Linked DNA regions of Homo sapiens: region 2 is linked to region 1. The links come from fine-mapping of genetic effects on gene expression. A gene starts in region 1. The other region holds a variant in brackets. All regions are shown on one strand. Distances are between the middles of the regions.

Region 1 (5,384 bases):
CTCAGGATCTCCAACCCAGGCTTCCATTGCCAAGGACATGTCAGAATTTATTGGGATTGCTGCCTGATATCTATTGGAGCCAGTCTGCTTTCTCTGGGACCATTCTTCTGGGCTCATCTGCCTAGCTTTACAGACAATATTTCTGCTAACTATCCTGGTGGCGCTAGCCCTTCATGTTTTGCTTCTAAACACTGGTATGGTGGAGGATGTCTGAATGAGGAGGGATGAGCAGAGGGGAACCTTGAGCAGAGGAAGCCAAGTTTTCCTTATGTCATCAGACATAGGCAGAACCTTGGATTCTCTTTGAATCCCAGTGGTTGGAAGCCAATCAGAGAAGTGAAGCTTGAATGTAATGACACTGCTTCCTACAAACAAAGGCCTATAGCCTTCTTAGATCTGCCATCAAAGTAGAGCTTCTTGTATAGTACTAGGCAGCTGGGGCAATGAGAACTTTCTGAAGACGTATAACGATCCTTCCTCCGCCCAGTTAGTTCCATGCTGAAATGTTAATTCAAACAGAGATAATGAGCTTTCCAGGAAGGTAAACTACAATCCAACTCTGGATTCTGCTGTAAAGAGATTGTGTGAAAAGAAAAATACTATCTTGGAGTAGTGGTGCAAATGTGTGGATGGGGTGCCTTGCACCTATAATGGGACAGAGAGGACCATTAGGTAACAGCCCCCAGTCCTCCCAGGATATGCTGAGGCCTTTGGTTTCATTTACGTGGAGGCAGAAGCAATGAGGATGAGGCGCATAGCTGGCCATTGGTTGGCAGACTTGGTCAGGAAGGAAGCTGAGTAATGAATGAGATGCCTGGGGAGGGCCCTTGACCTTCACTCTTGTAGGTATTTCCATCCCCAAGTGGTGTGAAAGTGATGTATGTGTCTGAAGTGAGAAGGAAACCTCTATGTGTGGTTGCCCAAGGCTATGACTCTGGGCTGTTGCATATGGAAATACCCCAGAAGGCATTCAGGCCAGAGAAGCCCAAAAGCTGTGCCTTTCTATAGGGGATGGCTGTGTTCTCTCTCCATGATCTCATCTCACCCATTGCTGTACCAGTTTCTGAGGCTGTTCCCTTAGTGGACGAATGTGCCTAGGAAAGGATATTCCACAATGCTCATGCCACTGAGATGTATGCCCTTCTAACTAATTACTTTTCATTCTAATAACACTCCCAGTTGAAAGGAAGGGGCTGCTAGCTACTGAGTGAGTAGTGTTGGGGGTCTCTGATTCCTCAAAATCTGGTTTTAGCAGAAAACAGGGCCATGTTGATACTGGTACTCTCTACCACGTGCATGGGAGGAGGCAGTGAATTTGCTGTGAACTAGCCCTCCTTGCATTAGATTTTTTCCAGGGAACAGCCTGCTTGTCTTGGTATTCTCTTGGGGCTATTCCTTGCAAATCTGGAGCACTTCTTGGGGCACAGTTATTTTCTGGAGACAGTCATTAGCTCAAAGGTAGTCATGTGTGAATTGAGATCTGCTGCCTATTTAGCACCTGGATATATTTTTAAATATTCTGTCCTTCCAGGGCATTCTAGAAAATAATATTATGTTGGAATAACGATTTCCAGGGCAGATGCTATGTCCTCATCACCAAGGGCTTCATATGAAACATTGAGTCCTGGTACTCTTGGTACTGTCACTATATCTATCATTTGTTTTTGTTCATAGTCCGATCTTGGTTCTTGGCATGAGAGACATGCTTCCCTGCAGCACATCACCTTGGGCCACCTGCAGAAGGTGGCTGGACCATTCAGGTTCACCAAACCCAATCTGGAAAGAAGGCCAGTTAGTGCTGTGGTTACAGCTGAGCATTTGGTCACTGAAATCGTCTGGATGTTGCTGGATGGAAAAAGTTACTTAAGATCTTTGTGAGATGGTTGTCCTATTTTGTCCTTGGCACAAGCAGTCCTCTTACCCATGGTCATCGTTTCTGCAGGAAGAAAAAACAAAAAAATAATTTGGCTTTCATTCATACATTTTTTTTCTTTTTTTTTTTTTTTTGAGACAGAGTCTTGCTCTGTCACCCAGGCTGGAGTGCAGTGGCGCGATCTTGGCTCACTGCAACCTCCGCCTCCTGGGTTCAAGCAATTCTCCTGCCTCAGCCTCCCAAGTAGCTGGGATTACAGGTGCCCGCCGCCACACCTGGCTAATTTTTGTATTTTTAGTAGAGACAGGGTGTCACCATGTTGGCCAGGCTGGGCTCGAACTCCTGACCTTGTGATCTGCCTGCCTCGGCCTCCCAAAGTGGTGGGATTACAGGCGTGAGTCACTGTGCCTGGCCCATTCATACATTTTTAATGTGCACCAAACAAGTGCCAGGCATGGTAATAGATGCTGGGGATACTAAGCCCATAAGTAGGACACTCCCCCTGCTTTCAAAGGGCTCACAGATGGAGATATTATGATGTGAGAAGCTGCATAGAATACTGCAGGGGCAATGGGAAGGGAGAAAGTAACTTCAAAGGGATTGAGGAGGTCTATAGAGAGCATTCTGATTGATGAGTCTTGAGCTAAGCCATTTAGGCTGAAGAGGAATCCCTCTGGAAAGAAGAAGGGTCACTTGGGGTAGAGGAAAGAGACTGTGCAAAGGCAGAATGCAATAAAGGGCATGGTGCATTGAAGGAATCATCACAATTTGGTGTGACTGGACTGTAGTGTGAGGAATGAAGTGGTCGGAGGTAAGGCTGGTGATATGATTTAGTTGTGCCCCCACCCAAATCTCAACTTGAGTTGTACCTCCCAGACTTCCCACGTGTTGTGGGAAGGGACCCGGCAGGGGAGGTAATTGAATCATGGGGGCCGGTCTTCCCCGTGCTGTTCTTGTGATAGTGAATAAGTCTCACGAGATCTGATGGGTTTATCAGGGGTTTCTGCTTTTGCTTCTTCCTCATTTTCTCTTGCTGCTGCCATGTAAGAAGTGCCTTTTGCCTCCTGCCATGATTCTGAGGCCTCCCCAGCCATGTGGAACTGTAAGTCCAGTTAAACCTCTTTTTCTTCCCACTCTCGGATATGTCTTTGTCAGCAGCGTGAAAATGGACTAATACAGCTGGGATGGAAAGATGAGGTCTGAGTGGTGCAACATCATTCCTTGTTTCCGAGATGTGAAGGAGGGGCTCTCTTAAGGAAGCCCCAGACTTAGACTAGCAGTATCTCTTGTGTTTCACACTCAGCCCAGCATTCAACTTAATTTAAACTCAGGGCACCTTCCAGCACAGATTAAATGTAGTAATACTGTGGCCATAGAGAGAAAAAACTGAAGTGACTTCTATGGATATAGGAATAACAAAATTTACACGTAAACTATAAAAGAGTAGCAACCATTCTGACAATGAAATTTATGGACTTCATTTCAGAGATCAAAAGTTCACATGTGAGGCTATAACTTACTTAAGGAAAGTATTAAAAGCCAGTGTGTTCACTGCAAAGGGAAACCACGTTTGATTGTGACCCGTGGCTTTGAAGTGTGTGCATGTGTGTGGGCACACACACACATCTCTGGGAAAGGGGTCTTTGTTTCTGTGTCTAGGAAGAAAGACTGAATGATATTTGTCTTAATATTGTGGTTCAAATATCAGTTTGCCAGATCAGCTGCTACCCTGGAGCACCATCCAAATAGCTCTACTTTCGTTTTTTTTGAGATGGAGTCTTGCTCTGTCCCCAGGCTGGAGTGCAGTGGCGCAATCTCGACTCACTGCAAGCTCCACCTCCCGGGTTCATGCCATTCTCCTGCCTCAGCCTCCTGAGTAGCTGGGACTACAGGCGCCCGCCACCACGCCCGGCTAATTTTTTTTTTTTGTATTTTTAGTAGAGACGGGGTTTCACTGTGTTAGCCATGATGGTCTTGATCTCCTGACCTCGTGATCCGCCCGCCTCGGCCTCCCAAAGTACTGGGATTACAGGCGTGAGCCACCGCGCCTGGCCCCGAATAGCTCTACTTTCTAAGCCACCATCTACATCAGGCCCGTGGTTCCCTAGCCGCTCTTTCAACTGTGAAACCCATACCCATATCAGTTTGCCAATTCCTGAGTTCCTTCCCATCAGAGAAAGCAAATTGTTAACAGGCTCAGTGTCACCAATGAATGTGGTCTGGAATTAGTTGTGATGGTATCAGCCCATATTCCTTCATTTTTGGGTACTTATTGTATGCCAGGCACTGGGATATGGACTTTACAAGTTCTTAAAAGACCCCGTGGGGTTCTTTAATGGAGGATGCAGCGTTGTAGAGACACTAATTTGCACAAGGCCACACTGTGACTAAGTGTCAGAGCTGAGATTTAAACCCAAGACTTCCAATTTCAAAGTCCAAGCTTTAGCAATTATGTCAATTCCCTCTGTAGGTCCAGTCTACATTTCTGATGTATTAAAAGTACTTTATCTGCCTTGGCTTTCTAGACTCCCTAAATCTAGCCAGATGAGCTTCCTTTAAGAACCCTAGTCCAAACTAGTAGCATACAGCAGGTGCCACATCCCACTTATGGTTTCCTAGCTGCTTATCCCATTTCTCTGGATTCCCCCAGCTAGTGACATGCATATGTATCTTGTTTGCCCCCACAGTTCTGTGCACAACCTCATTTTTCCCTATTATGACCTAATTTTACCTCTTCATTTAAGCAGTTCCTTCAGAATGCTTTGGGTTTAGCTCTCCCAAAGTACCCAGCCTTAGGGACCACCTCTGTACCTGATTTCTTATGGCCTGTCTAAAGCCTGCTTAGAGGGCTAGGCTGCAACCTTAGCCAATTTTTTTTACCAGTCCCCATACCCAGGGATACCACTAGCATTGGCATTGTTGCCAATGGCCAAGTCATAGCACAGCTCCCACCTGAACTCCATAGCTGGGTTTTGCTCATTTGGTGAATTTCCTTGTGTGTGTAATTAGCCAGAATCAAGGTCAGCCTCTGGAAATACGGCGGTGCAGCCTACTGGTCTCCCCCTTCTTAAGGTGCAGCCCTTCACTTGGGTGAGTTTTCTGGGCTCTGAATCTTTTCCTCTTCTGGACAGCGCCACTAAGGTCCTAGAATGCTTGTGAGCTGGGACCAAGCCCACAAGATGACAGGATTAAGGAGTTTCAATACATCTGGTGTCGTGATAGGGTCATTGCTACCAGCAATATTGCAAGAAAAGCCTCTTGAAAACAAACTTATTCTAGGGAAAGTCAAGCATACAAGTCAGTTCTGAAAAAGTTGTCTCAGGAGAAGACATGAGTAAATTTTGCTGTTGTTGTTCAGCCCCCTTTTGTCTGGCTTCTGTTGGGGGAAGACTAGAAAATCTCAACCAAATCAAACAAAATAAGCAAATTACACCTTTCCAAACTCCTATAACCTAGTGAGCTGTTTTTCAGCCAAAAATTGTATAAAACAAAATGTGAGAAAAGAAAGATT
Region 2 (5,384 bases), 23 kb before region 1:
CCCCAGGATTTTTACCCCCTGGTGTACATGCCCAGTGTAATTCCCTTCCCTTGAGTGTGGGCAGGACCTGTGAGTGTATGACAGGACAGCACTCTGTGATTGCATTACATTGTAAGACAAAGGTGAAGGAATTTTGCATATACAGATAAGTTTCCAAATCAGTTGATTTTGAAGTTATCAATAGGAAATTATGGGTGGGCTGGCTGAATCACATAAAAGCCCTGAAAAGAGGGACTAGGCGCTTCCTAAAGAGAAGCACTCTCCATCTACTTGAAGGAGCAATAGCTGTGTTGTGCAGTGCCTATGGCAAGGAGAGGCTGTAGGAGCTGAGGGTCCCAGCCCTACAAGTACCAGCAGAGGACCCAGCTAAGCCATGCATGGACTCCTGACCCACAGAAACTCTGAGGTAGTAAATGTGTAGTTTTAAGATGCTAAATCTATGGTAATTTGTTGTATAGCATGAGAACTGATATAGGCATAGTTACTAACAGAAATGGCAAAAAAGCAGGAGTGTGCATAATATATACAATACAAAACAGTGCCTAACGGGAATAAATTGACATTCCAAAGTCTACTCCTAGATAGAGAACCTCTAAAAATAATAAATCGAGGAGACACTAATCACACCGTTGTGATTGTTTCTAGGTTTGTCTTCCCCTAAACTAAGCTCTGCAGGGGCCTCTGCCATTGTTATTTCTTCTGTAAACAATTTCTGTGGCCTTCTCCATGGGAGGACATGACCTAGGCTCTGTGAATGCAGAAAAGAAGATGTCAGTATGTTTGTGGAATGACTGAGGAGTTGAATACATACAGACTTGTGTGGTCGGATATGTGAGATGCTCCCTGGGAGGACTGAATGAATTGCTCCAGGAGCATTATAGGCCAATCTGCCTGGCAGCCCCCTCACCTCTATCCTCACCCTCATAGGTCTTCACAAAGAATTCACAGCATTTTTGAGTCATAAAGGATTGCTAGGAAAAAATATATAAATATATATTAATTATATATAATATATATTTTAATACATATATACACACATACATAAAAATATGTATATGTATATTTAAACTGCATTTGGGTAAGTTATGGGAGAAGGAGCTGGAGATCAACTTGCATCACTTTGTAAAGGGCCTTTCTTATGTAAAAGAAAGCTAGGAGATTTGAATGGATTTTTTTGTTGTTGATAATTGATGGTAAATGACGAAAATACATTCTACACAGAGGAGAATTATGATCTATTTTGTGTTGTGGAAGGTCTGCATGACAGGAGGCAGACTGTGGGAGGCAAGAGAAGTGGTAAGGAAGCTACAGCAGGATGCAGACATGTCCTACTCAGTCCTCCATCCCTGCAGTGCAGCACAGGGCCCATCCAGTAGTGGGAGGCAACAAGTATTGGCTGATTTACAAACCAACACAGCATCAAATGTGAGCTCCAGAGGCAACAGACATGGATGTAGCAATCTCTGATAGGTTCAGAAATAAGTTTTCATATACCACAGAGCTAGGAGAGGGGATATTTCAGAACTACCAGATCTGAGGGGCAGAGGATGGGGGTTGAAAAAGCAAGTCCAGTCTCAGGACCTCCACTGAGCTCTAGCTGGAATGGGAAAGGGTAGTCTCAACACCTGGTGGGCTGAGAGTATCCAGGGACCAGAAACAGCTCAGGGATCCAATTCAGCACCACTATTCAGACTTAGCGTCCTGCCTGAACCCCCAGTGTGAGAGTTCGGACACATTCTAGCTCAGGCCACATTAGCACCCAGTCCTCTCCATCAGCTTTTTAGGAAGCCCCTGTTCATCCTCTTTTGACCCATTTCCTTCCCTCACTCTGTGCTTACCGCCAGCTTCTCCCTCTTTGAGGATGATTCATCTCAGGACAATGTCAGGGCCAAAAAGGATTGCTTACTTGACCCATTGCTTCATATTATAGGCAGGGCACCCTCCTCTCTTTCTTCTGACTCAGGGATAAGATGTTTTTTGGTTCCCCGCCCCCCCCCCCACCAAAGCCTAACTAACCCCTCTGCCTGTGTTGACAATCCCTACATCTACTCATTTATTTGTTTTAATTGTTTAATTACTCACTGAAAACTATTTATTGAATAGACCCCATTCTAGGCACTGGAGACACAGCATTGAACATGAAACTGGGGTTCCAAGCTCTCATAGAGCTGACATTACAGATAGGGAGGTAGGAAATAACCTATGAGCCAATAAATGAACTAAATGGTTTCAAAATTATAAATGGTCTGAAAAAAATTATAGAGTAATAAGTGCTCCCAAACTCCTTTTGAGTTTTCCATCTCAGCATATTTCATACCAACCATTCGATGACCTAAGCCCAAAACCTGGGAAACATCCTGGACTCATCTCTCTCACTCATCATTTAGTTTTAATTAGCAGTCAGAAAGCCATGTGGATTCCAATTCTCAATGGCTCTCAAATCCACCTGTTCTCTGTCCCATGACACTTAATGCCAACACTATTACTTGTTGCCCAAATCATTGCAGCATTCCCTGACTGGTCTCCTCTCTCTAGTCTTAGCCTCTTCCTTCGTATCATGCCCTTGTTTAAAATTGCTCAATGGTTCTCTATAGTTTCTCCAGTGAGCTTCAACTTCCTTCATCTAGCATGCAAGGTCTCTCATTAACTGGGTCCTGCTGAGCTCTTCAACCTAGTTTCCCTACTGTCACCTCTCTAAAAAGCTTTCACTCAGCCATATTTGCGGGTCTACATGTCAAGGTGCTACAGTACCCTCATGCCTTTGGTATATTGTGCCCTGACTTGAAGTACCCTCTACTCATTCGTTTCTAACTTCTTTGTTCAAAACTGAGACCAAGTGTCACCTCATTTAGGAAGACCCTTTTCCTTATAGTGACCATGAAGTTCTTAGAAGGATTACATTGAGAAGGTATGTGAAACTTTTAGCACAATGATGGCACTCAGCTTATATGTCATTTCCCTGATGGAGGTTCTTGAATTGGAACAGACGTAATTAGCATGTAAATAAAGTCTTCCTATTTGCAATGAAAACA[T/C]CTCAGAATACAAACCCTGAAGTGGGAGATTTGTCTCCCTCATTGTTTTAATGAAATAGACTCGGGCACAGAAAATTTTTCTTTGTCATTTGTGTGTTTATTGCCTGATACTGTTTATTATAATTTGAGCTGCTACACATTATTCTTAATGGCTTGGAAGTGATTCTGATGGATCACAAGATTAGACCACATCCCATGCATATCACCATCTCAGACAGCACACACAATAGTGATTCACTGCAGTTCCCATCCCTGAGGGTTGGCTGTTGCCATTTCCAATTTAAGACTGTTTCTTGGTACATTTGCAGATGCTATCTACAGCCTGGGTACTGGATGTAGAATCCACCAAACTGCTACTTTCCCTGAAAAAATCTGGGACCACACATCTCCACCAAACCAAGATTTATCAGGAGGTAGTCTCTTTGGGCTGACTTTTGGCACTATAGCCTTCACCATCTATGGAGGCTTTAGGCACTGTGTGTGAAAGAAAGAATGGCTTTGCGAGAATGGATTTCTCTTTGGACACCTGTTCTCTGTATAGCTTTCTCTCTCAGCAATGCACACAAAAGCACACCTCCAATTCTTACTCTCATTACTCTATGATGCTCCCTGACTGCTCTGAGTCTGTGTGTTTCTGAGCATAATAGTCCCTAGAAGGGCTAGGAAAAGATGCAGTTTTCTTACTTGCATTCAGCAGAGTCCGGATCTTTTTCTCTTCTTCAGCTTCTTGGAGCAACATTTCTGCCAGTGTCTTGTCCTCTGATTCGATGCACTCGTCAGCCTCTCGAAGGTATTGTATGTAGTCAATCTCCCGTTGGGCACGTTCAACTCTCAGTGCCAAGTTACCCACTGCACTCTTGTACTCACTTGTGTAGGTCTGACATCTTCCCAGCATGACAGATATATTTTTTGAGAACTCTTGGAATTCTTGAATGTATGCCCTCGTTGCTTGGGTACATTTTTCCAGCCCTTGCTTCAGTCAGAAAATAAATTTGCAAATTATTGCTTGTTATTTAAATTACCCAAATAATATAAATACCTATCATTTATAGAAAAGGATTAGAAAATTACACATCATCAAATAGGGGAAAAATTGAAATCTCCCATAATTCCTAAATTCAAAGGTAGTATTGATACTTGAGTATATCAGTTTTTAAAAGTTTTCCCAAGCATTTAGTCATACATATGTAAATATATATTTTTAAAATGTGATTTTACTATATGTTTTGTATCATCTTTTTCACTTGCAGATATATTGTGAACATACTTTGATACTAATTAAAGTATACCTATACCATAACTTTAATGAGAGCATTCCATTTAATTGATATCCCATTATTTATTCTGTTAGACTCTTTTTGAGGTACATTTACATAGTTTTTAATTTTTTGTCATTCAAACAATGCTGAGAAAAAAACTTTTTATTTACATCTTCATCAGATTATTAAGGGAAAAAAAAACCTTTGTATTTACATCTTCATCAGATTATTTTAAGGTAGATTTCCAGAATATCCGTCCCTAGCACTTGGCACAGGGCCAAGCACATAATACTATTCAATAAATATTTGCTGAACAAAAGAATAAATGAATGGAAATGGGATTGCTTGGTCAAAGAGAATGTCTACTTAAAGCTCATTTGGCATGGTTTATCAAAATTCTATCCACAAATGTAAAAATGTATGCTCCAAACAACAATACGTAAGGCTGTTTATTTTGAAGGGAGAAAGACAGAAAGAGAGACCCAAAATAATTCCCTAAATCCCTACCCTCTTTTTTCCTACCCCTCCGACACTGGCTTCTCAGGCTGGGAATGCTATCACTGTATTGTTAAGTGTCTGCGCTGGCCAACAGTGACTGCCACCTGCGACTTGGCTTCACCTCAGGTCAGGACTGGGGTGGGAAGATCTATACAGATCATATCCTTGTCTTTTTCAAATCCACATTCATAGCTATAAAAGGATCAGTCTGTACTTCATACCCTTGACAAGTTCTTAAGGTAGTGAAAGACAATTTGCAGGGATTTGGCTGGCTTTACTCCCAAGGCAAGTCGGTGCTAAATGCAGAGGGATCCTGACTGAGCATCATTCTGGCACTTCTAAGGAGGTGAGGCTCAGGAGGGAGCAAGTGAAGAAGCGCAAGAGGCCGCTCGTCTGGGAACACTTCATCCACTGCCTCCAGGCCCCAGCCTGTTGGCTGGACGCCCTTAGGAAATGCATTCGGCCTGCTATGTGGAATTACTTTACCCTGACTATAACTAGAAGAACATATAATTTGGACATGAAGATTTTTCAGGAAAATGTATAAAATAATTATTAGCAATAAGAGGGTCTTTGAAAGAAGATAAATAATTTA

Evidence for each region. PIP is the estimated chance that this variant, and not a neighbour inherited with it, causes the effect.
Region 2: its variant is fine-mapped to the expression of SYT9-AS1 in whole blood (INTERVAL, PIP 0.91).

The regions. Positions count from the first base shown.
Region 1 is chr11:7,463,344-7,468,727 of GRCh38, reverse strand. SYT9-AS1 (SYT9 antisense RNA 1) reads left to right here and starts at 2,893. Exons shown (of 5, transcript NR_103855.1): 1 at 2,893-2,975. It overlaps SYT9 (synaptotagmin 9), which reads right to left. Exons shown (of 7, transcript NM_175733.4): 7 at 1-1,936. The coding sequence ends at 1,928. RefSeq lists an enhancer at 747-806.
Region 2 is chr11:7,486,748-7,492,131 of GRCh38, reverse strand. It overlaps OLFML1 (olfactomedin like 1), which reads right to left. Exons shown (of 3, transcript NM_198474.4): 2 at 3,717-4,005. Among named protein-coding and RNA genes, the nearest start is that of OLFML1, 3.9 kb to the right of the region's middle. The variant T/C (reference allele first, on the strand shown) is at 3,033.